Linked DNA regions of Homo sapiens. The protein of the gene in region 4 purifies or fractionates together with the protein of the main gene of each other region. This does not show direct contact. Each region holds a gene or a part of one and is shown on either strand. Other genes may lie near its edges.

Region 1 (3,500 bases), on a different chromosome or scaffold from region 4:
CCAAATAGAAATCAATAACACATAAAATCTCTCTGGAAACATACACAAAAAACAGATGGCAATCACTGCCTTAAAGAGGAGGAAAACTAGCTTGGGACAAAAGCAAAAGGGAAAACTTCATTGTACATTCTTACATACCTTTTGAATTTTTAATTTTAAATAAATTGAATACATAAAATCCACTAAACATTTACTATGCACCTTTCTTCCTTCAAGGAGCTCATGTGTTATTTTTATGTTTTTTAATCCCAAAAAATATATAATAGATACATTCCAGTATCAGCATGTGATACAGTTCAGCTGTGTCTCCAACCAAATCTCAACTTGAATGGTATCTCCCAGAATTCCCATGTGTTGTGAGAGGGACCTGAGAGAGGTAATTGAATCATGGTGGCTGGTCTTTCCTATGCTATTCTCATGATAGTGAGTAAGTCTCACAAGATCTGACGCGTTTATCAGGGGCTTCCGCTTTTGCTTCCTCATTTTCTCTTGATGTCACTATGTAAGTACCTTTTGCCTCCCGCCATGATTCTGAGGCCTCCCCAGCCATGTGGAACTGTAAGTCCAATTAAACCTCTTTTTCTTCCCTGTCTCAGGTATGTCTTTATCAGCAGCATGAAAATGGACTAATACAGTAATTGGTATCAGTAGAGTGGGGCATTGCTGAAAAGATACCCAAAAATGTGGAAGTGACATTGGAACTGGCTAATAGGCAGAGGTTGGAACAGTTTGGAAAGCTCAGAAGAAAATGTGGGAAGTTTGGAACCTCCCAGAGACTTGTTGAATGGCTTTGACAAAAATGCTGATAGTGATATGAACAATAAGTTCCAAGCTGAGGTGGTCTCAGATGGAGATGAGGAACTTGTTGGCGACTGGAGCAAAGGTGACTCTTGTTATGTTTTAGCAAAGAGACTGGTGGCATTTTGCCCCACCCTAGAGATTTGTGGAACTTTGAACTTGAAAGAGATGATTTAAGGTATCTGGTGGAAGAAATTTCTAAGCAGCAAAGCATTCAAAAGGTGACTTGAGTGCTATTAAAAGCCTTCCATTTTAAAGGGGAAACACAGCATAAAAGTTCAGAAAATTTGCAGCCTGACAACGCAGTAGAAAAGGAAAACTCATTTTCTGAGGAGAAATTCAAGCTAGCTGCAGAAATTTGCATAGCTAGAAAGGAGCCTAATGTTAATGCCCAAGAGCATGGGGAAAATGTCTCTAGGGCATGTCAGAGCCCTTCAAGACAGCCAATCCCATCATAGGCCTGGAGGCCCAGGAGGAAAAAGCGGTTTTGTGGTCCAGGCCCAGGGTCCCTGTGCTGTGTGCAGCCTAGGGACTTGGTGCCCTGTATCCCAGCCCCTGCAGCCGTGGCTGAAAGGGGACAATGTAGAGCCTGGGCTGTGGCTTCAGAGAGTGGAAGCCCCAAGCCTTGGCAGCTTCCACATGGTATTGAGCCTGTGGGTGCACAGAAGTCAAGAATTGAGGTTTGGGAACCTTCACCTAGATTTCAGAAGATGTATGGAAATACCTGGATGCCCAGGCAAAATTGTGCTGCAGGGGTGGGGCCCTCATGGAGAACCTCCGCTAGGGCAGTGCGGAAGGGAACTGTGGGGTCAAAGCTCCCACACAGGGTCCCTACTAGGGCACTGCCTAGTGGGGCTGTGAGAAGAGGGCCACCATCCTCCAGTCCCCAGAATGGTAGATCCACTGACAGCTTGCACTCTGTGCCTGGAAAACCCATACACGCAATGCCAGCACGGGAAAACAGCCAGGAGGGAGGCTGTACCCTGCAAAGCCACAGGGGTGGAGCTGCCCAAGACCATGGGAACCCACCTCTTGCATCAGCGTGACCTGGATGTGAGACCAGGAAGTCAAAGGAGATCATTTTGGAGCTTTAAAATTTGACTGCCCCTCTGGATTTTGAACTTGCATGGGGCCTATAACCCCTCTGTTTTGGCCAATTTCTCCCATTTGGAATGGCTGTATTTACCCAATTCCTATAACCCCACTGTATCCAGGAAATAACTATCTTGCTTTTGATTTTACAGGCTCATAGGTGGAAGGGACTTGCCTTAACTCAGATGAGACTTGGGACTGTGGACTTTTGGGTTAATGCTGAAATAAGACTTTCAGGGGTGTGTTGGGAAACCATGATTGGTTTTGAAACGTGAGGACATGAGATTTAGAGGGGCCAAGGATGAAATGAAATGGTTTGGCTGTGTCTCCACCCACATCTCAACTCAAATTATATCTCCCGGAATTCCCATGTGTTGTGGGAGGAACCCAGGGAGAGGTAATTGATTCATGGGGGCCAGTCTTTCCTGTGCTATTCTCATGATAATGAATAAGTCTCACGAGATCTGATGGGTTTATCAGGGGCTTCCGCTTTTGCTTCTTCCTCATTTTCTCTTGACACCGTCATGTAAGAAGTGCCTTTCACCTCCCACCATGATTCTGAGGCCTGTCCAGCCATGGAACCCTAAGTCCAATTAAACCTCTTTTTCTTTCCAGTCTCGGATATGTCTTTATCAGTATGAATAGGGACTAATACAGTATGGCAAATCATACTTTCAGAAACAAACTTTATATTTTTGTAGAGTGTAAATATCAGCTTGAATATCAAAAGACCCAAGTTTTTGCTGGAGCTTTGCTAATAATAACTAGATGTGAACGGCTGAATAAATCACTTAATCTGCCTACACCTCAGTTTCCTCACCTGTAAAATAAAACATTATACAATATGATCTCTAAGGAGTTTTACTGTGATAGATATATATACATACAAAATGGAATACTCAGCAGTAAAAAGGAATTAATTAATGGCATTTGCAGCAACCTGAATGGGACTGCAAATTATTCTAAGTAAAGTAACTCACTTATTCTAAGTGAAGTAACTTAGGAATGGAAAACCAAACATCATATGTTCTCACTCATAAGTGGGAGCTAAGCTATGATGATGCAAAAGCATAAGAATGATGCAATGGACTTTGGGGACTCGGGGGAAAGGGTGGGAAAGGGGTGACGGATAAAGACTACAAATTGGGTTCAGTGCCTACTGCTCAGGAGATGGGTGCCCCAAAGTCTCACGAATCATGTAAAGAACTTACTCATGTAACCAAATACCACCTGTTCCCCAAAAACCTATGGAAATAAAAAAGCATTTTTTTTAAAAAAAGGCATTTTAAAGTTTTTTTTGGACCTAAAAATCTATTCAAAAATGTAACAAGGACTGTCATACTGTTTCTATTAATATTCAATACTTTGTGGACCAGAAAGTATCAACCCTGTGACATTGTGTGTGTGTGTGTGTGTGTGTGTGTGTGTGTGTGTGTGTGTGTTTGTAAATGTTCATTCTGTTAATTCAAAACTGGTGAATTCCACTAGATGTAGAGAACCAGTCACTAGAAAAAGGGGAAGGAGTTCCCTAAGTCTAAAGGGACAACTGTGTTCCATCTAGTAAATATGCTTGAGAGAAAATAATTTGGGAAGAAATAAACAGACAAATG
Region 2 (3,500 bases), on a different chromosome or scaffold from region 4:
TAGGCATTTATTGCACGCAGAACCAGAAAGAAAGAGGTTCCCATGGGGTGTAAGTTCAAGCCATTTCTGGTGTAAGGGAAAGGTCCAGGTCATAAATATGCCACTGACCCTAGCACACTCAAAAGTTTATATACACTCTTCACTCAAGGACAAAATTCTTCTGTTGGGTTCCTCTGGTCTTTTGACATCTCCTACAGAGCTTATAGAATACAGTTAACTGTAAAATAAATTTTAAATAGATACATACGTTTCTGTGGCAGGATCATAAACTTCACAGGAATTAAGCACTCTCCCAGAAACATTGTTTCCTAAACTTCCACCACAAACATAGATTAGGCCATTGGCTTCCACCATCCCATGGCTGCAGCGCTGGGTCAGCATGCTGGGCTTTGTGTGCCAGCTTTCAGTTCTCGTATCATAGCACTCAAATAAATACAGAGCTGAGTTTCCTGTAAAAGAAAAAGGCCCCATCATGCTTAACTTTAGTGTGTGCGGGGGTTTGGAAAGAACTGACTGTAGATCTTATTAGTTAAGGAAGGAAGAATTTAGGGTCATACGGCCATTTTCATACTCAATCAACAACAACAAAGTGTAGGAATAGTTTAAGAAAACGCTAATAATCCTGTTTGTATAGACCCTGGAAAACATCCTTAAAAGGATCTGTTGGAAATACTTATTTATTGGTAATTAAACTTTAGAAAAATAAATTTGATTTCAAAAGAAAAATTAAATAAGAAGCCTTATATATGTCTTCAAGCCCCATTATGCATGACGGGAATTATCCATACTTCAAATGTTTATATAAAGTGGAAAAGCATAATAGTTCCTTACAGATGGTAGACCCATACCTTAAAATATGAAAACTACTATCTGATCATATTCTTATTTAATATTCTGGAATAGCTACAGCACCATTAACAAAATTATATTTCCTAACTATTCTCAGTTAGTGTGGTATATCCTGAAATCACACTGGTCCCTGCTTGAGTATATTCTCAAAATATTGATGTATATTTCTGATGTATTTTGATTACACAATTTAAAGGCAAAACATACATTCATCATGTTTTGAAACTTCTACACACTGTAGGAGTTCAATAAAAAATTTTAGAAATGATACTATTAAAGTTTAAGTGCTTTTTTTTTTCCTTCCCAAGGACAAAAAATTTTAGAAGTTACCAAACTATTTCTCATCTCCCACCATTCTGGGCTAATATCAAATGATTTAAAAACGACAACACCTTTATAATTCTGCGTTGCAACTAAGGTCTGTGAAAAGTAAAGATCAGAAAATAACAACTAGAAGAAGCAATGGTCATGACCAAAAATAACTTATTTTTAACTTTTTAAACATTCCTGATTTGGTAGGTTCAGTGGGTGGACACTATAGGAAAATATATAGTATATAGTAGATTAAAAAAAAACTACTACTTAAGCTAAAAACACACTTAGCAAAGGCTGAAGAAATGAAGTTATCTGCAGTACCACAGAACAGTTACCGTCTATCATCTTTAGGATTTATTGTATTTGAAATATTCTACATTATAACAGTCTGTGAAGAATGCTTTTAAAGAGAGGAAATGGTTACATTTAGGAAATAGTGATTTTTCTTGTATTCATTTGACATATAGTTGAGGGTAAAAACATAAGTATGCAGACCAAAAGTATAACCATTTACGGTCTCCCTAGTTTTCTTTATTAGCCCATTATTTAAGCTAAAGAAATTACTTGAAAATGAAAGCATACAAAAGCTATTATGTATCTAGCCTGCACCTATTCATTTAGAAAAATTATTCATTTAGAAAAAGAGCACTACTGGACACTAACACACTATCCAATAAGGTTTTTATATCCACACCCACATCCCATTCTGCTCAATAAGCATAAATACCACTACAGTCATTAAAAACTTAAAGAATAAAACAAATGAAAAAGAGCATTCTTTTTTCTAATAAAAAGAAAGCAAATATAATACAAATTTTAAAAGCCTGAATATAGTAACGAGTTCTTAAAGAGTCTATAAGTTGAACTCTGAAATCTTTAAAACAAATAATATTATGCAGCCCAAATAATTTAGAACTATAATTCAGATAATGTCAACTAATGCTTCATTATGATAAAAAAAATGGGCCATTAATCTAGGAAGCTAAAGTTCTGTAATTTAATGGTTTGTAAAGCAACGACATAAACCTTCAGGGAGATGAGCTCTAAAATGTGACAAACACATATTTAAATTACCAAGAAAGTATCTGGACAAATAATACCAGCTGTTTATTTAAATATGAAAGCCAAGATACTTGGCTTTAAAGCATATGCCCCAAACCAAAATACTTAAGAAGTCCTTACCTACTTCTGAACCTCCAGATGTATAAATTTTGCCTTCTGCAGCACATGCAGCAAGGCTGTCTCGAGGTGTCGGAGGACCCAGTTTCGAATACCAGCTATCCTTCACTACATTATAGCAGTCCATTCGCTTTATTGGGAAAAGCTGAGAGCCTCCCAAAATGTATACTACATTGTCCCAAAACACGCATGCTGCATCTCTTCGTTTTTCAAAGGGGCAGCGGATGTCTGTCCAGCTATAATCCTGTAGCAGAAAAGGATGGGAAGCTTTCAGTAAGGAAAAAAATATAACTGAAAAGGACAATGCAAAGATACAGTCAAAAAACATATAAGAATATGTTAATTTATTAGACTACACATACAAATGTTTGGCTTGAGACTATTACCAATTTAATCTTGTGTGGTTTCTGCAGAATGTTGATTAGATGGGGCGGAGGGCAAAAGGCAGGCACATGACTGCTTTGGGTCCTTTCTGGCTCTAAAATAAACTTAAATATATTTGGATATACCATCACCACCCTGTCTTCTATTCCTTCTGTTATTGAAGACAATACAAGAAGATTCTAAAATAAGTTGTTTTATTTTTTAAAAAAGCTTTTTCAAATGTAAAGGTCTCCATCCCTTCCCTGCCAGATATATAGTGTGATATAAGTAATCAATGGATAATATGAAGCTCAAATTGCCATTATCCTACTGATAGTCTAAAGCCAGAAGGTATTTTGTGGACTTCTTTATTAATTTTCTATATTGAGTTGAGCCAATGTAGTCAGCTGGACTTTAAAACTGTTGATGTTTATAAGGAAATACTTGAGTAATCTCTTCTAAGTACTCTGGATACTCACTTTTCACCCCAATGATTAGAAATACACACCTATCAGTACTTGACAGTAAGGGCTGTTCACAGCATCTGTTTCTTCACTATGTTTGATAGCATCGAAGAATGCTTGTGCCGCCCTTCCATGTATGTGCATGGGGGGATGCCCCTAAAGTTATAGTATCTTGGACCCTCTCTTTTTTTGAGATAGGAAGCTACAGCGTTCCTGCTATTTTCTGAAAATAATCAGGGTCAGATAGGAATTCATACCATTCCCAATCTCACCAAGGAAAGCACTATGTGTGATTATTGAGTTTCCTTCGAGAAAATCTGACTGATAACC
Region 3 (3,500 bases), on a different chromosome or scaffold from region 4:
CTAAATCAGATTTGCATACATTTAAGAAATCAATCTTAAGATCAAACTACTTAAAAAATAGCTAAGAATCCACTTTAAAAACTAAGCCTCAGACTGAAAGGCTTTCCCAAGAATGACTTTGTGATGAAAAAGAACATAGATTTATGAGTAAAAGAGCAGAAGTCAACTTGCAATTTGCTACATTTGATAAAAGACTAGCTGAGGTGAAAAAAAGATAAAAATCAGAAAACCAGAACTTGAAATGTGCAGTAACATAGTAAGAAATTTATTAGTAGAAGATAATATACAATAAGAAATGGGGTTAACAAATAAAGAAGCATGAAGAAATAAATGGCAGTATAAAGGTAAAAGTAAAAGAGACCAATTAATAGCAAAGGATTATCTCACACATATTTCTGCACTAATAAAAGTAAAAATCCTATGGAGTAGGAGCAGTGAAAAATGTTACAGTCTTTTTTTTTTAAGATATAAAGGAGTTGCAGAATCACCACAAATTCTCTAAACAGTGCATTGAAAATACAAAGTTCATCATAAAGCACAAAAGGCACGAAAAGTATTAGTCAAGGAACAGATTAGGCACACAAACTATTTGAATACAAAGAGGCCAGAATAAAATATCCGAAGAATGAAAAACACCAATAAAGGGCAATCAGATTTATTTAGAGCTAAGGAAAACTAGGGCTGTACTCACGGGGAAAAAGGTGGTTAAGAGCAAATATGGCTGAAGTCTTCAAGATGCTAAAAGGGATAGTGAGAGCGGACATAAATATGATACCCAGGGATATTGTTCCAGATTCAAGGTAAATGGAACAAAAACTTCAAATCAAACTGCTTAAGAGGTGATCTTAGAGAGTCATACCAGAAAAAAAATTGAAAGGCTATTTTAGCAAAAATTCAACTTAAAACATTACAGACTAAAATTTCTATACCCCATTTCTTCATTATCTCAAATTATGTTAAGAATTAGATGAGGTAGACATATCACTTTAAAAATCACAAAATCAATTCACCCACTCAATATGTTTAAGTCTAAATGACTGTAAGAGTACTAATTTGGGGAATGAGGTAGGAACGAGCAAGAATACACTGAAAGCCCATCCAAATCAACAGACTGTATAATTGGCATTCTGTCAAGCAAGGACAGATTCCAAATGCCCTAACATCCCCTTACATGCAATCTACATTTACCTTTTCTAGTTCTATAAGAAAGCTGTCCAGAGACTCATCTGAGAGTTTGCCTACTTCAAACATTGTGACTGCATGACTTTTCAAGTTCTGAAAAAAAGAAACAAAATATTAAAGTTCTACTTCTCCCTTTTTATGCTAAGCATACTATCAAATATTTATATTATCCTTTCAAATATATTTAAACTTAAGGATTGGGGGGTGAGGGGCTAATTCTTCCAATTACAAAAGGACCTTCCCTGAAAGTTATTATACTCCTCTAAGTCAGTTGTGCTTCGGGAATAAATGTAGTACTTTAAAAAAGATATAAAAGCATTAAATTATTTTATATCTAGTATTTATTTTAAACACCTTCATATTTAAACAAGAATTGGGCTTACTGGTGAAAGATTTCCCATCATTAAGAAGGCAGTAAGAGTGGAGTCAAACAGGAATGCGATGCGCTTCGTGTGTCCTGTAGACAGACTCAGGCTGCTTACACTGGCTGTGTCAGCTGAAAAACACCATAATTTAAAATCAAGTAAATGGAAATTATTCTTTGCTTACCATTTGGAGTGAAAGTATTTCATTTCAGCTTTATTTGATAACCAGAAAGTACATAATTTTAAAAAGGCACTATTATAGCCATAAGAAGTTCCAGCCATACCTATTTTGAAGCGCAAAGAATATTAAAAAGCATTTAACCCTAGGCCTTGTCCACTATGCTGTGTTTCCCTTTGGGCTTAGCCTCACTATTCTCTCGGGCTGAAATGGCTTTCCTTCCCTGACCAGCTGGCAGGCTCTTCTTCATTCTTAGCTCAAATAACATCTTCTCTGTGAAGGCTTCCCAAACCTCTCTAGCCAATTAAGGGTCTCTTCCTCTTTGCACCCTACAAGCATTATAATTGGTGCCCGTGTTGTTGTAATTTGTTTGGTCACATTCCCTTCTCTCTCCTTAGACTTAATTCTTAGAAGAAAGGTACCATATTCTTGTCAGTTTTATATACCTAGGACTTAGCACAGTGCCCAAAATATAGTAAAACACTCAAAGACTGCGTATTGAATAAAATCTAAACTAAAATTAGAAGGTAACTGTAAGAGTGTATGTTTGGACATGTGCCGTACCTACAGACAGACTCTATGTTAAACTGAGTTACTGCTAACCTGGATCTTCTTGACTATTTGTATCAGTGTCAGTTGCCGATGAAGCTTCTTGTACAGGACTCCTACTTTCCCCTCCATCCCATGACAAGAGCATCTTCTGTGGATCTAAGGTACTCCTATTAATGAAGAATGCATTTGCTTTTTAAAAATCATATAAATGACCTTACATTAAAATATCTACTGAAGTTAAGACTTAAATTATGAACAATCCATCAAAATTCAGTCTTATATTCAAGCCCAAAATTAAGTCGCAGCCCAAAAATGCTCTGCCTACATACAACAAGGGTTCTTAACTAAGATCCACGGATAGGCTTCAGAAAATTCAAGAACCCTTCAAGATTTTATGTAAAATATTTATTTGCTTTTTTTCTGGGAAAAGCCTTCTTAGTTTTCATTATATTCCAAAAAAGATCTGTAACACACACACAAGATTAAAAATCACTAATATAAAGGGCTCACCTCAACTGACAGGTTGAATAAATAAAATTTCTGGGCCAGGTGCAGTGGCTCACACCTGCAATCCCAACACTTTGGAAGGCCAAGGTGGGTGGATCAGTTGGGGCCAGGAGTTCGACACCAGCCTGGCTAACATGGTGAAACCCCACCTCTAACAGAAACACAAAAAATTAGCTGGGCATGGTGGTGCACACCTATAGTCCCCACTACTCAGGAGGCTGAGGCATGAAAATCGCTTGAAACGGGGAGGTGGAGGTTGCAGTGAGCCGAGATCGCGCCACCGCACTCCAGCCTGGATGACAGAGAGAGACTTTGTCTCAATAAATAAATAAATAAATAAATTTATGTATGTAAAATTAAATGTCTTTTCAAAAGGAAACTCTAATAGCTCATACTGAATAAATTTAAGTTACTTTAATCTGTTTACGGATGGAACATTCTTCCATGATGAATGAAGTTGATCCAAATTAATTACTTGTCCCTTCTTATGGGCAAAGCCCAATCGGCAATACATTGAAACAGCATTCTGAAAGGAATATAAAGGAAACTAATTACCATTTAAAATAAACTAGACATCACAATATTTGTAGAGAAAAAATAGTGTAATAGACTAATAGTGATTCTCAAACATTTTCATCCCGTAACCAGAAACTATTTTCAGTAGACCTGCTCCTCCCTTGAAGTCTTCATAAATGTATAGGAGGGAATGTTTCCAA
Region 4 (3,500 bases):
TGCCAGGCATTAGTCTAAGTGCTTATGTAGATTAATTTATTTAATCTCCACACCAGTTTTTTGAGGGCAGCATTATTACCATCTTCATTTTACAGATGAGAAACTATGGCACAGAGAGGTTAGGCAACTTGCTCTCAGCCGTGTTACTACGAAGTAGTAGAGCAGCTTCCAACCCAGAAAATCCAGCTTTCAGAGCACCAACTTTTACCCACCACACAATACTGACCCATGTACCCTAAAGAAAGTACACAGATCAAGTATTTAGCACTTGATTTTTGCAGTGTAAGAAAACAGTTTCACTGATATTTCCTCACTAGAATTCATTATGGAACTCAATAGTGAGTTCCATTAGGTCTGTAGCTAAGATCAGGCCTTTCTTATTCAAACACGTAAGATGTGGGGCAAATAAAAGAGGACAGGACCTATTTTTAGCCTGGCAAAGTTCCCTGGATCAATAATAGCCAAAATAGCAACAGGGTCCAGGTGCCACTACTCTTGACGCACTGCCACTGACCCTCTCCAGACATCCTGCCTTATTCCCTGGGCATCCTGATTAAATACAGTAAATAAGTAGCGTCTCCTGTACCTTTATCCTCCCTCCATTCAATAGCCAACTTGCACCAATGCATCTCCTTACTGACCTCAAGACTCTCTGGCAATACATAATAGGTTCTGCCTTGAAAAAGAATTTGGACTATATGCAAAGTTCTTGGCATCAAAGAATTCTCTCCCTCATTCATTCATTCATTCATTCATTCATTCACAGAAGCAGCAACCAAATACAAGTGGCAGAAATTGCTATAGGTTGAGTTTCACTTACCCAAAATGCTTGGGTCTGTAAGTGTTTGGGATTTTTTTGGAATTTGGAATATGTGCATATACATAATGAGATATCTTGGGGATGGAACTCAAGTCTAAACACGAAATTCATTTATGCTTCATGTACATCTTATACAATATATTTAATAATTTTGTGCTTGAAACAAAGTCTTGACTGCATTTTGACTGGGACCCATCATATGAGGTCAGGTATGGAATTTTCCACTAGTGGTGTCATGTCGGTGCTCAAAAAGTTTTAGATTTTGGAGCATTTTAAGATTTCAGATTTTTGGATTAAGATGCTCAACCTGTACTGCCAGTCTAGTTAAAACCTCAGGCTTTCACATTAACAGAATCCTAGCTCCATCACTAACCAGCTTGTGTGATCCTGGGCTTCTCTAACCTTCTGTTTCCTCATTAGTAAATGGTGATACCAAGTACCTACCCATAGAATCTTGTGAGGATTAAAGCAGGTATTGTGTGTATATGGCAGACTAAGCACCCCATAAATGTTTAGTTAGACTAAGCACCCACTACCTTAAAGATCTAAGCAATTGCTAAATCTGGTCAGATTATTCTTTCAGACATCAAAGAAATACGAGCTTTAAAATATTTTCATCTAAAATGGTAAGATGTGCTGGCATATTTAATGGTTGCTATTATGTGCTGCATCCCTAATAATGCTGGATAGCTTTACGGTATTAACATTCTGACATTCTAGAAAATGAAAGGTATAACAAGTACACATGCACACACACACACACCAACTACAACCCGAGGAGAATACAGTTGAGCATCCCTGTGCTTTCAGAAGATAATAAATTGGAATTGGCAAAAAAGACTTTTCTCACTATTTGGCTCTATAGTTTCCCTCAAAATCCTATTTTTTACAGGGTGCAAAACACTTATATGAGAACACTTAGGAATAAGCAATCTTCCTACAGCGTAGTTAACTTCAGAGTGTCTTCTATCTATCATGGTGATGTCATACACTATTGGTTATTTTGCTGTTCCTATAATCAAATAAATATAAGTCTAATAAACTTAGGTAAGTGTTCAGCAAGTTTTCAGCAAAACTGTTAGCAGAACTATTCAAGACCTAGTCTTAAATAAAAACAAAAATGGCCAAAATCTGGTTGGTTCATGAAGTACCTTTAAGGTGGCTGCTATTTTGAAGAAAGTCATACCACTGGTTTCCTTCTGTGTTAGGGGGTGACACAAGATCATCATCTTCATCTTTCAAGTACTAGAAATACAGAATTAGAAATTTAAGTTTATTCATACCTGGAAGGGAAAATGGAAAAAGAAAAAAAGTAAAAGACAAAAAAAAGTTAAGTTTAGTAAATCAAAGACTTAGGGCCTAAAATCGGTTTATTTTTAACACTTTTTTAACTTAATAAGTTACTTTGTTTTATTGCCAAGTCCTCTGAAAGTGCATTACTATCATTCTAAGTGAGGTAGCCAAAATCTGCTATGTGTATGTGGCAGAATTAAGCCCTCCATAAATGTTAGCTAGCTACTATCTTAAAAATTAAAGAAACTGCTGAACAGTTGGTAGTTTGTTTAGTCAAGCAACTAAACAAACCACAAAGTATTAAAAGATTATTATGTTGTAGATGTAGAGATCACAAATCGAACTTAAATTGTGTTTCTTTTTCATGAGCATATTTTAATTTAACATATGCAAGTTATAAATTAGTTTCATAAGTATCCATTGTCAATGTACTGTCAATATACTCTATGGCAGTTGTTCTTCAAGTGAGATCCACAAGCCCCTGGGAATCCCCAAGATGCTTTTGGGGATCCACAAAGTCAATACTAGTTTTATAATAATGTAGCTGTCACCTGCCCTTTACACTATGCTAACATTTGTACTGATGGTGGGGAAAGCTGTAAGTGTCTCAGCCAAGAGTCAAGGTAGTAGTCCCAAATCATACCAGCAGTCACTGTATTCTTTTTCTGCCACATACTCATAGTTTCATTTATCTTTAATGAAGTCATTAAATTATTAACTTTATTTTCAACCCTTGAGTACGAATCTTTAATATTCTGTGTGACAGAATTGAGAGTTATACATAGGAACTTTTGCTACACAAAGTATGATGGTTATCTTGAGGAAAAGCACTTATGTTAAAAGCAAAAATAGGCTGGGCACGGTGGTTCATGCCTGTAATCCCCGCACTTTAGGAGGCCATGGCAGGCGTATCACTTGAGCCCAGGAGCTCAAGACCAGCCTGGGCAACATGGCAGGTCTCCACAAAATAAAGACAAAAATTAGCCAGGCATGGTGGTGTGTGCTTGTAGCCCCAGCTACAAGAGGCGAGTCCGAGAGGTGGAGGCTGCAGTAAGCTGTGATTGCACCACTGTACTACTCAGAGGAAATATCTTGTCTCAAAAAAAAAAAAATTTTTTTTTTTTTTGGAAAACCTGCATCTGCCCCTGTGTGCTTCACAACACAAAGACTTTTCTGATTAAATTGGTGGTGCTATTAATGAAATCTAGCTTATAGTTTGATAAAAGGTGGCGGCATTTAGAACAGCTGGATGACTCAGGGAACCAATACTTCCCAAATGACCAAAGCAGGATGTTACAAAATTATGCGTGGACAAAAGATCCGTTCAAAGTGCAAGAAGATGAATGAATTTTAATGTAAAAAACGTTCACTGATGCAATTTTAGATT
Region 5 (3,500 bases), on a different chromosome or scaffold from region 4:
TGATAGTGTTAGCCTGGCTGCTCCTGGTTCGGGAAAGAGTGCTATGAAAATTGAGATATATCTGTCTAGTGTATGGGAGGAGAAAATGGCTGTATTTGGTTCTATATATTTGTCATGCCTGGTTGATGGTTTGTATTTTCTATAGTGATTTGTGAGTGACAATGGATCTATATTCAATTGACCCAGTATAGTTGAATATGTGAAAATATTTTATGTAATTTTACTAATATATATTTTGTTAAAATACAACCATATAGAATCTACTAGGCTATAGGTGTTGAAAGATAACATTTTTTTTTTTCTAAATCAGGTTTGTTACAGAAGGAGAAAGTGGCAGTTGAAGCATTTCAGATTTGCTGCCTTCTCCTACCTCCTGAAAATAGGAGAAAGTTACAGCTATTGATGAGGATGATGGCAAGGATTTGCTTAAACAAAGAGATGCCACCCCTGTGTGATGGCTTTGGTACCCGAACACTGGTAGGTTGATTTTTAACATCAGGTATGACTTTTTGGAATGAAAGTCGACTGAGTAAGGTGTATTAGTTTGGGTGATCAGAGGGAAGTACAAAGCAGACTTGCTTAAAAGAGCCACAGTCAGTGTCCACCCAGACTTGTGTCGTGCTTTTGTTCTAAGTGTCTTAAAGAACATAATGAGAAATGGAGACTTGAGTAGGGGCAGACTCTGTAGAGAGATCTGCTACATCCTGTTCTCCCACTTAAAATTATTTTAAATTTATTCTTAATTGACAACTAATAATTGCATATGTGATGTTTTAATTCATGTATACATTATAGAGTCAATCAAGCTAATTAACAGATTCATTACCATACCAACTTATCATTTTTTTGTAATGAGATCATTAAAAATCTATTCTTTTCTCAATTTTGAAATATACAATATATTATTATAATTGTCGTCACCGTGCTGTGCACTAGAGCATTAAGACTTGATCCTCCTGTCTCACTGGATCTTTGTACCCTTTGACCAACATCTATTTCCATGTCCCTGTATCCCCCAGCCTGTGGTACCTACCATCTAATCTCTGCTTCTATTGGCATATGTTTTTAAAGAGAGTTTATTTTAGAATTTACTTACTAGCAAAATCTCTTGATTTTCCTCAAAAAATGTCTTTGAGCAAAACTGGTGCTTCAGTGGAATGTATGTGCTTTCCATATCCTGTTAAAACACCGTGTACTCCCTGGGGATTCACTGGCCCAGTTTTAGAAGTAATAGAGTGAGATCAGAGGAGCACTTAGTGCCCAGTAGGATTCTTGATCTCTATATTTTTTTGGAGTGAGTGGATGGTTAGAGAGGCTAATAGACCTTTTTGAAAAGCTGAAGAAAACTTTATATCTATTCTGCATATAAAATACACATGCAAAACTTTGCATGCAGTTTCAAGGCGATCACAGAGTCCCTGGGGTCCATGGTCTCCAGGCAAAAAATTCTCTGCCTGTGTGTCTCTCTGTACATGTAAATGTAAGTGAAGATCATTTGCAGTGTGTTAATGAAGTGTTACTAAGCAGAATTACATGATTTTTTGCTTAAAGATTTTGAAGGAAGATTGTCAGCGATAAAAGTAGTAGGAAAAAACAAAACAAAACAAAAGCCAGTCCAAAGAACAGTATTAAGAATGGAGTAGTTAGGCTGGGCGTGGTGGCTCACTCCTGTAATCCCAGCACTTTGGGAGGCCGAGGCAGGTGGATCACCTGAGGTCAGGAGTTCTAGACCAGCCTGACCAACATGGTGAAACCCCGTCTCTATTAAAATTACAAAAATTAGCTGGGCATGGTGGCAGGCGCCTGTAATCCCAGCTACTCGGGAGGCTGGGGCAGGAGAATTGCTTGAACCTGGGAGGCGGAGGTTACAGTGAGCCAAGATCACACCATTGCACTCCAGCATAGGTTACAGAGCGAGACTCCGTAAAAAAAAAAAAAAAAAAAAAAAGAATAGTTAATTTCAATTCTATGGAAATTATTACATTGATGCTATAATATATTTTGCATTTCTGCTTGCCTCAAAGAGAGTCTCATCACTTAATGTACTTCTTGAAAAGTCCCATGGCTTTGTTCAAAGATGATTGTCAAATATACATCGAAAATCCTAGAGAAAATAAGCTAACTAGGAAAAGATGTAATGGTTGAGGCATGTGGACTGTGTTAGCGGTTTAAAACAAATCAATAATGAAATTAGGATAAATAATAATTGACTAAATGGCTATAAAGTGCTTTGAACTTAGTAGTGCTACATGATTCAAGTCATGGTGATAATGATTTTCAAAATTTGTTTTCATATATTTATATGTGTGTATGTGTGTGTATATATATATATATATATATGTATATTTAAAATCGTGTAAAAGGAGGTTTAAAAATTGCTCAGATAAGCATCTCTCTGCAGTCTCTTAACAGGAAGATGCACATTTTGTTTGTTCTGGTTGTTGAGACCGTCAACCCATCTGAGATGGCTGGGTACTCTTGGTAGAATATGCACCCTGTGCCTTAGACCATTTCTCATATTTGCCTTTTGCAAATTAGATTGCACTCAGTTCAGAAAAATACTCATCTGCGTTTACCCCCCACCCCGCTCTTTTTTTAGATGGTTCAGACATTTTCCCGTTGCATCTTGTGTTCCAAGGATGAAGTGGACTTGGATGAGTTATTAGCTGCTAGATTGGTAACGTTTCTGATGGACAATTACCAGGAAATTCTGAAAGTCCCTTTGGCCTTGCAGACCTCTATAGAGGAGCGTGTGGCTCATCTACGAAGAGTCCAGGTAAAGGAGAGGATATTATCAGTTCTATGAAATTGGCAATATAAAGTCACGTAAGCTTGCTAGGCTTCTTGGGGCATTTTATTATGAGGATTAAGTGAATTAATGTTTATAAAGTACTTACAACAGGTCTTGGCACATAGTAATCCCCTGCATGTGTTTGTATTATCATTGAAAAGTTTACAGAATGCACATTTGGTTTTGTGTATCAATCCATGTGGCATATTTTTTATTGCTAATTCCTTGAATGAGTTTGTTTAGAATCTACATACACCTACTGATGGAAATGATTTTATGTGCAGTAAGTGTCTTGATTCATAATTGCCCTGTGACCTAGTTTAATATTCCCACTTTTTGCATGAAAAAGCTAAGGCACAAAGAACTTAAATAACTTCGCTTAAGGCCACAGAGCCAGAATTCTGACTGTTGCAGTCAGCCTCTGTAATCAGTGCTCTAAACTATCATTCCATATTGCCTGTCTAAAAATCATAGTACAGTAGAAGAACACTGGCATGAGAGCCATGAATCCCTGGCCAAATTCCTAGCTGTATCCTTTCTGTCGTGTGACTCTGGGCAAGTCCCTTAACCGCTTTGGATTTTACTTTCTTTCCTCAGGCGTTAAAATGGGCTATTCTTTCTTTATAAAGTTGTGAAGATTAGAACACTGTACTTTACAATTCCTAGGATGAATTTCTGACATATGTCAGGTATTCTTTGAAAGGTAGCT
Region 6 (3,500 bases), on a different chromosome or scaffold from region 4:
TGGGCTACAGAGACCCTGTCTCAAAAAAAAAAACAATAAGAAAATAAATAAATAAAAATAAATAGGTCTCGAAGAATGCACACAAAACTGTTATACGTAAGTGGTTACACCCTGGCGTAAAGAGATGCACTTTAACTTTTTCTTTATATATTTCAGCATTGTTACATTACTTTTATAATTTAAAAACTTTCAAAAAAATCCATACAGAGAAAGAGGAAATAAATACAGTTGTCTCTCAGTATCCATGGGGGATTTGTTCCAGGATCCCCCAAAATCCATGAATGCTCAAGTCCCTTACATAAAATGATTTAGTATTTGCATATAACCCTATGCACATCCTCCTGTATACTTTAAATCATCTCTAGATTTCTCACAATACTTAATACAATGTAAATGCTATGTAACAGTTAAGGAATAATGACAAGAAAAAAAGTCTGTCCATGTTCATTTCAGATGAAACCATCCGTTTTTTGGCCCCTGAACGCTTTCAATCTGCAGTTGGTTGAATCCACTGTTGTGGAACCCACAGATACAAGGGGCCAACTGTGTACCAAACACATTAGCAACACTGGCTTTGGGACATATTTACAGGTGGAGTCTTTTCTTTCCTTTTTACTTGTTTGTACCTTCCAAGTCTCTTACAATAAGCACAAATCCTTTCCAAGTCTCTTACAATAAGCACAAATCCTTTCTAAATGGAGAAAAAACTGCTAATAAAAATTGCATGGTATATGTGGAAGGAATGTCAATCTAGATTCCAAGGCATCAAATCGATTACTCGAATCTTGTGGAAGTTTACATTACCTCTTTTAAGTGTTGGGATTACAGGTGTGAGCCACTGTGCCCAGCCTACATTACCTCTTGAAGACTCAGTTTCCTCATCTATAAAATGGGTTTGCTATAAGGACCAAAGATTACATCCACTAAGAGACAAGCACATCCCAGGCAGGTGGTAGGGGCAGAGTAGATGAAAGCTTCCATCACTGTCTAATACATTTCTGATGATAGATCCTGTTGCCTGTACCCCAGGTGGGTTGACCCAGGCAGCAGCCTTGAAGAGGTGGCTGCCAGGGTCAGGATACGGGAACCGGCTCAGTCCTAGCACACTCATGCCTCCCCAGTCTTGGTCAGCAGCAGCTGACACCCTGGCTTACCTTGCTGGGCTCTGCCTCATCTGTCATGACCCCTGTCATAATGACAGCCTCATCCAGGGAGTAGAGCAGCCCTTCCACGAAGTGGTTCTCCTGCCGCTGGGACTCGTGGGTGAACTTGGCACAGATAGCCTCCAGGCCCCGCACTGGCTCGAAACGCAGCTTGACGTACTTCTTGGCAGGGATGATGCGGATCTCAGCGGCCACCAGGAAACCCAGCGTCCCACAGGACCAGGGTACGGCATAGAACAGGTCTGAGTTTTCGGACTGTGAGACAGAATTGATGTGTTGTGAGCTGAAACCTTGGGCCCCACATTGTGGCATGCAGTCAGTGGGGGAGCAAAGCCTGGGAGAGTCCCTATTCTCTCACTCTCTTGTATAAACCCAAACAATGAGCTTTACAAACTGTGCTTGCTGGGCTTTAGTTTCCTCCCTGCAGCTTCGACATGACATGGAACCTAATACTGCCCTCTGTCTCAGGGACCCTCACTGAGAGAGCATCCTCCTTCTCCCATCTAGGTACAGCCCCTGACCCAGAGGCTATTCAGGAAAAAGCTGGGACTGGCACTGCTGCCCAACGACCCACAATGGCAGGGGCATTGCACAAGGGCAGGAGTCCAAGGCCAGGCCTTGACACCCTTTAGTGGGTGTCAGGCAGTGTAGCTGGGGAACATTAAAATGCCTCCCTTCTGAACCATTACTAAAATTTACAAGGCCTTTCCCAGTCCATCGGCTTGTGGGATCCACCCCCGACAGAGCCCAGGGAGAGCGCTAGCACCCCCTTATGACAAGTAAAGAAACTGAGTCTCTCAGAGCTGCCATGACTCACCAAAGTCTTCCCAGAAAAGTCAGCTGCAGCAATGCCAGGGCTCAGGCAAGACCACCTAACTCCCCGGCCAGCGTTTTTCCTACAACACCTCATCTGCTTCCATAAATCAATGTCCAACCTCATCATTTTATTGTTTTGACATTTGTCTTGGACACAGACAACTGACTTTTCCTTGGCCATTCTGATTGGGATTCTTCAGTTCTAGTAAAGAAAGCTCTTTTGAAAAAGTCCAGCCATGTCTTGCCTTTACTAAGAGGACAGCCCTGTGCAGTCTCCACAAAACCTGAATGCTCTTGGTGGTGGGCACAGTGAATGCAGCAGGGCAGGAGAGCTGGAGCAAGGAGGCTCTGCAGCAGGCTGGCAGAAACCTCAGGAACAGCAGCACTACGCTCACCAATTCCCCCTTGGGCCCACAGCTAATCACATTCTCCTGGCCATGGCAGTGAAGATGACACACTTGCTGCATGCTGAGCTCTATGCAAGGAGCTTCCCATACAGGACCTACTTATTCCTCTCAACCACATATTTGTCAGTGAGGAACCTGGGCCTCAGAGAAGGGAAAGAATTCACAAATGTCAGTCTCCTTTCTCTGCCGATAATAAATAGGTCAAAAGACAGGGCCCCGCAAGCGTTCAGGAAAGCAGGATGAATTGATGTGAATCTTGCTAGGGGTATCTCTCATCCAAGACCAGTGCTGCCAAGCTGGGAGTCTTTCCTTGGGCCCTCTTCTGTGAAGTGAAGGAGTCGGGTGGCTCCCTGAAATACCCACTTCAACAGGACCAACTGTCCCTCCCATCCCAGGGGTCCCTCACACCTGCCAGGACAGATCCAAGGTTATTTAAAGTGTCACTCCTATCCCACCCCTTAGGTAAAACGCTTTAAATGTTTGAATCCCAGTTTGGGTGGTAGAAGTGTTTCTTATTTTTCTAAAACATCCTCTCTAATCACTTTTACTTACACGATTACGTGCTACATAAAGACGTTGCAGTCAACAATGGGCCACAGATAAAATGGTGGTCTCATAAGATTATAATGGAGCTGAAAAAGTCCTGTTGCCTAGTGGTATCACTGCTATCACAGCTATCCTAATGTCATACTCATGTGTTTATGGTAACACTGGTGTAAGCAAACCTACTGTACTGCCAGTTGTATAAAAGTATAGCACATATAATTATGTACACTACATAATACTTGATAATGATAAATGACTCTGTCATTGGTTTATGTATTCACTACACTACACTTTTAATTGTTATTTTAGAGTGTACTCTTTCTGCTTATTAAAAAAAAGTTAACTGTAAACAGCATCAGGCAGGTCCTTCAGGAGGTATTCCAGAAGAAGGCATTGTTGTCAGAGATGACAGCTCCATGTGTGTTATTGCCCCTGAAGACTTTCCAGTGGGACAAGATGCGGAAGTGGAAGCGTTATTGATAATCTTGACTCTGTGTAGGCCTAAACTAACATGCGTTTATGTCTTGACCTTTTTTCTTTGAGACAGGGTCTTGCTCTGTCACCCAGG
Region 7 (3,500 bases), on a different chromosome or scaffold from region 4:
TAATATTATTATTAATGTGGCACATTAAACCACATGCAGTTAGGTTATATGGAGTTACCAGTCAGGCTCCTGTTTAAATTGCAGAACAGGAATGGCAATTATAATTCAAACTGCCATTTGATTTGGCATTGATACTGATTTGGTATCAACAGACATTTAGGAGATAGTTACCTCTTAAGGTGTGGATACCCATTCATGTTTTTGCCTTCATAAAGAAGGATGGTACAAAAAGAAAGGTATTCTTCGTTCACAGTTTTTATTTCTTCCAATTAACTTTTGTGTCTTCAAAGTTGATTTGTCTTTTAAAAAATTAATACTTCTTACTCATACAATCTACACCACCCCAAGGAAAACAAACCCAGGGAAGGGTAATTTAGGGGGCAGTTAAAATGTGCACTATAGGTTTATAACAAATGCTTTCCAGCCCATAATCCTGTACATATGCAACAAAATGGCACCTCAAGTTCATCTGAATGAAGGCCCAAATAATGCAAGCGAAGGCCATGAGAATAACAAAACAAACAGAAGCTTAGTCACTGGCTTCATTCACTTTGTATGGTAGCACAGTCTTCAAACTGTCTCACACTTGATCAAGAGTAAGCAAACACAGAGACAACATCTTGACTCAGCCATTAGTAATTATAAGTGAAACCAGAAATAATTTACCTGGGCCACAAAAAGGAATTGTTTTGTCCTGTTTTTCATTAAGTCCCTAGCACCTGAAACGTAGCAAGTTCTGATACTGGGCTTCTAAAGGCATGCAGTTTTTCACTCACATCTACTTCAAAGAATTTCTTCCACTGAAACATAGCACAATCAAGGAAAAACTTCTTCTGGAGGCAAAGGAAGAGCACAAGTATATGTTGAGGCGTAATGTATGACCAAGATGGTACACTATATATAGAAGCAGTGAATGCTGTTAAAGTGTCACTCACAAAGGGATAGTCTAACATTAACACACAACTCAACTGCACTGCTAAATATGGTTGTCTTTATTTTCTTTTTCCTTGCCCAGCCCTATCTAAACATAAAATAAAACTACAGGACTGAAATTAACAATCCATTAAAATCAGCAATAAGTTATGAAAATCATAAAGCTTTTTTTTTTTTTTAAGTAATTAAGGGTAGTTAAATTATTTAAAGTATACAAAGTCCAAACAGCCAGGGGTAAGGTCTCCAAGAGGCCTTCCCAGGGTAAGGGAGAGGGCCACAAGGGAACCTTGGAGTTTGAAAGACAAAGGGAACACATGACATCAAAGTGCAGGCTAGAAATTTCACTTAGAAGAAAATAACATTACTGAAAATATTCGTAAGAGTAACAATAGCACCTGCACAGTGGGACTGTGAGGAAGAGAGAGACTGCCTGTAGGAAAATGGAAGCAAATCTTTACATTAAAATGAGACAAGTGCTGAACTTACTATGTTAACTATGATAGTGTGTCTACTATAGATATCAGATGGTTAAAAGCTGGTAAAAGGTAATGATTCTAAAAACAAAAATAGCATTGACCCTTTTTCTACCTAGCCCAGACCTCATTCATTTTGTGCACTATAAAGAGTGAGGTGTGAGGTGTTTTATCATTATCAAATGCTGCATCAAAATAGATGATTTTTTTCCCCATGTGTTTTTCCACTATAAAAGACATCTATTTTTTTTTATGGATAAGCTTTAAAAAGATGTCATTTTGGTTTTCAACACATATAAACAGTTATCAAAATCTGAAATAAAAATGCTGCTGTGGCTCAGACCTTGGCCTGCTAATCTGCGTGCACAACTCTTCTGACCCACGCAGACAAAGAGGCACATGGAGCTTTTTCCTTTTGGCCCCCCCAATCCATACTCATAGGCCTTGTAGGATAGAGGCTGTCATGCATGGACTGCTCCCATGTGGCCTAAGGGCAGCAGGATGGAGAGGTGGCAGCTGGGTGCCTAGTGCTAACAATGCAGGATAAGGTTAGCTTGCTTAGCATGGAATCCAACAGAAAGTTGAGCTGCATGATGATCCCTTTCAAAAGGCTTCATGGGAGTCTCTCCTTTTGCAGAGCATGAAATGAGCTTTTTTCAAAAAAAAAAAATAATAATAAAGGATTGATCATCCACAGGCTTCATGATAAACTGTCCCAGGCTGAGTTTTAATAGCTCATTATTAGCTATCCAAGATTAATACCTGATTTTCTTGTCTTTTCATTCGAATAGTTTTTATTTTGCTTTTAGGACCATAAAGCTCAGGAAGGGTTCATAACCCCATCCTTAAATGTGTCTACTCAATGTAGTATGAGCAAACTAGAAAAGAGAAAGAGGATGGCATCTCCAATGTCCTCTTCTCAATCAACTCAAATCAAGAAAATTTCACACAAGTTTTCTGCTGCCATTAAAAATTGTGATTTTTCCAATATGAATATTCTGAATATTTGTTCTCCTTGGGAGGCTCTGCCCCACTTTTTGCTAAGTATTTGCTTAAATACAGGTCCTCTGACCCTTTTGTTCAAGTATAGTTTTGTTTTGTTTTGTTTTGTTTTAAAGAGGAGACTGCATCATGAACCCAATTTAAGAGATTGTTTGTATTGAATTGGCCCAGTGAATATTTTGCCCTGCACTGTTATGTCATGCTGGGTTCTATGAAGTGAATGAAAGTTTGACACTGGCACTGGAGTAACCCTCGTCACTCCCAATACTCGGCAGGCTGCTGTGGTCATCAATGTCACTGATGCTGGTGGTACTTATATTGTCCACTTCTCCATGGGAGAACTCTGTGCTTTCAACATCCACTTCAATCTCCTCTGCCAAAGGAAAAAAAAAAAAGAAGAACATTAATTATCGAGTATAGCGCACCTTCAAAAACTAACAGCATGAGGAAAAGAGGTATAAGAAATGTTACACAACAAGCTTATTATCAGTGATGTCTGGAGAACAGAGGAACAAGGTGAAGAGACAGGAATATTTTTTGCCAAGGGGAATGTCTGATATACAGTGGTGGTCTTAATTTAGGCAGCAAATTTCCTAAATCCTTTGACGCCAGTCCGTCTGGACCTCCCTAAAGCACTTGGCGTATTTGGGAATTAGTGCTTAATATTAAAAGGTCCCAACCCCCAAGTGGTTTAAAAACATCTGTTTTGCATTAAACCACAAACTAATTCTCAGTTCTGTTTATTAATCAGGGTTGCCTTAAAGGGTGGGCAGGAGCATAAACTTAATATAGGCAAACTAGAAAATTTACCCATCCAAGCCTTTGGTGGTGCCATTCTACAGATAGTTCAACAGACTTCTAGGATTCATCATAAAGATCTTCAACTAGTCAGTCAAACAAGTCATTATAAAGTAGAGTTTGAGGTATATGTCTTAGATTTAATTTTCTTGCATCAAATATAGCTTGAAATAAGGGCCTGAGACTTAAAAGTCTTCAGATTATAGTGAGATCCATTTTGGTGGTAGTATACAGACTTAAAAGCCAAACATTAAAAAAAAAAAACACCACAAATACATATTTGACTCAGCTATC

Evidence for each region.
Region 1: the proteins of ANAPC4 (region 4) and NUP35 purify together in Homo sapiens (affinity purification with mass spectrometry, with the first as the bait; one large-scale study listed by BioGRID). This does not show direct contact.
Region 2: the proteins of ANAPC4 (region 4) and KLHL7 purify together in Homo sapiens (affinity purification with mass spectrometry; one large-scale study listed by BioGRID and IntAct). This does not show direct contact.
Region 3: the proteins of ANAPC4 (region 4) and FAM91A1 purify together in Homo sapiens (affinity purification with mass spectrometry, with the first as the bait; one large-scale study listed by BioGRID). This does not show direct contact.
Region 5: the proteins of ANAPC4 (region 4) and DEPDC1B purify together in Homo sapiens (affinity purification with mass spectrometry; one large-scale study listed by BioGRID and IntAct). This does not show direct contact.
Region 6: the proteins of ANAPC4 (region 4) and DHCR24 purify together in Homo sapiens (affinity purification with mass spectrometry, with the first as the bait; one large-scale study listed by BioGRID). This does not show direct contact.
Region 7: the proteins of ANAPC4 (region 4) and MXI1 purify together in Homo sapiens (affinity purification with western blotting, with the first as the bait; one study listed by BioGRID). This does not show direct contact.

What each region holds. Positions count from the first base shown.
Region 1 is NC_000002.12:183,151,943-183,155,442, reverse strand, and holds part of NUP35 (nucleoporin NUP35), read right to left. Parts: intron 1-3,500. UniProt on the Homo sapiens protein: Functions as a component of the nuclear pore complex (NPC).
Region 2 is NC_000007.14:23,164,785-23,168,284, reverse strand, and holds part of KLHL7 (kelch-like protein 7), read right to left. Parts: intron 2,588-3,500; coding exon 2,347-2,587; intron 450-2,346; coding exon 248-449; intron 1-247. UniProt on the Homo sapiens protein: Substrate-specific adapter of a BCR (BTB-CUL3-RBX1) E3 ubiquitin ligase complex. The BCR(KLHL7) complex acts by mediating ubiquitination and subsequent degradation of substrate proteins. Probably mediates 'Lys-48'-linked ubiquitination.
Region 3 is NC_000008.11:123,785,439-123,788,938, reverse strand, and holds part of FAM91A1 (protein FAM91A1), read right to left. Parts: intron 3,311-3,500; coding exon 3,198-3,310; intron 2,445-3,197; coding exon 2,329-2,444; intron 1,679-2,328; coding exon 1,566-1,678; intron 1,276-1,565; coding exon 1,189-1,275; intron 739-1,188; coding exon of another isoform or gene 706-738; exon of another isoform or gene 692-705; intron 1-691. UniProt on the Homo sapiens protein: As component of the WDR11 complex acts together with TBC1D23 to facilitate the golgin-mediated capture of vesicles generated using AP-1.
Region 4 is NC_000004.12:25,408,263-25,411,762, reverse strand, and holds part of ANAPC4 (anaphase-promoting complex subunit 4), read right to left. Parts: intron 2,066-3,500; coding exon 1,972-2,065; intron 1-1,971. UniProt on the Homo sapiens protein: Component of the anaphase promoting complex/cyclosome (APC/C), a cell cycle-regulated E3 ubiquitin ligase that controls progression through mitosis and the G1 phase of the cell cycle.
Region 5 is NC_000005.10:60,602,667-60,606,166, reverse strand, and holds part of DEPDC1B (DEP domain-containing protein 1B), read left to right. Parts: intron 1-310; coding exon 311-477; intron 478-2,599; coding exon 2,600-2,776; intron 2,777-3,500.
Region 6 is NC_000001.11:54,870,196-54,873,695, forward strand, and holds part of DHCR24 (delta(24)-sterol reductase precursor), read right to left. Parts: intron 1,419-3,500; coding exon 1,155-1,418; intron 1-1,154. UniProt on the Homo sapiens protein: Catalyzes the reduction of the delta-24 double bond of sterol intermediates during cholesterol biosynthesis.
Region 7 is NC_000010.11:110,284,105-110,287,604, reverse strand, and holds the end of MXI1 (max-interacting protein 1), read right to left. Parts: intron 2,782-3,500; coding exon 2,618-2,781; 3' UTR 240-2,617; downstream 1-239. UniProt on the Homo sapiens protein: Transcriptional repressor. MXI1 binds with MAX to form a sequence-specific DNA-binding protein complex which recognizes the core sequence 5'-CAC[GA]TG-3'. MXI1 thus antagonizes MYC transcriptional activity by competing for MAX.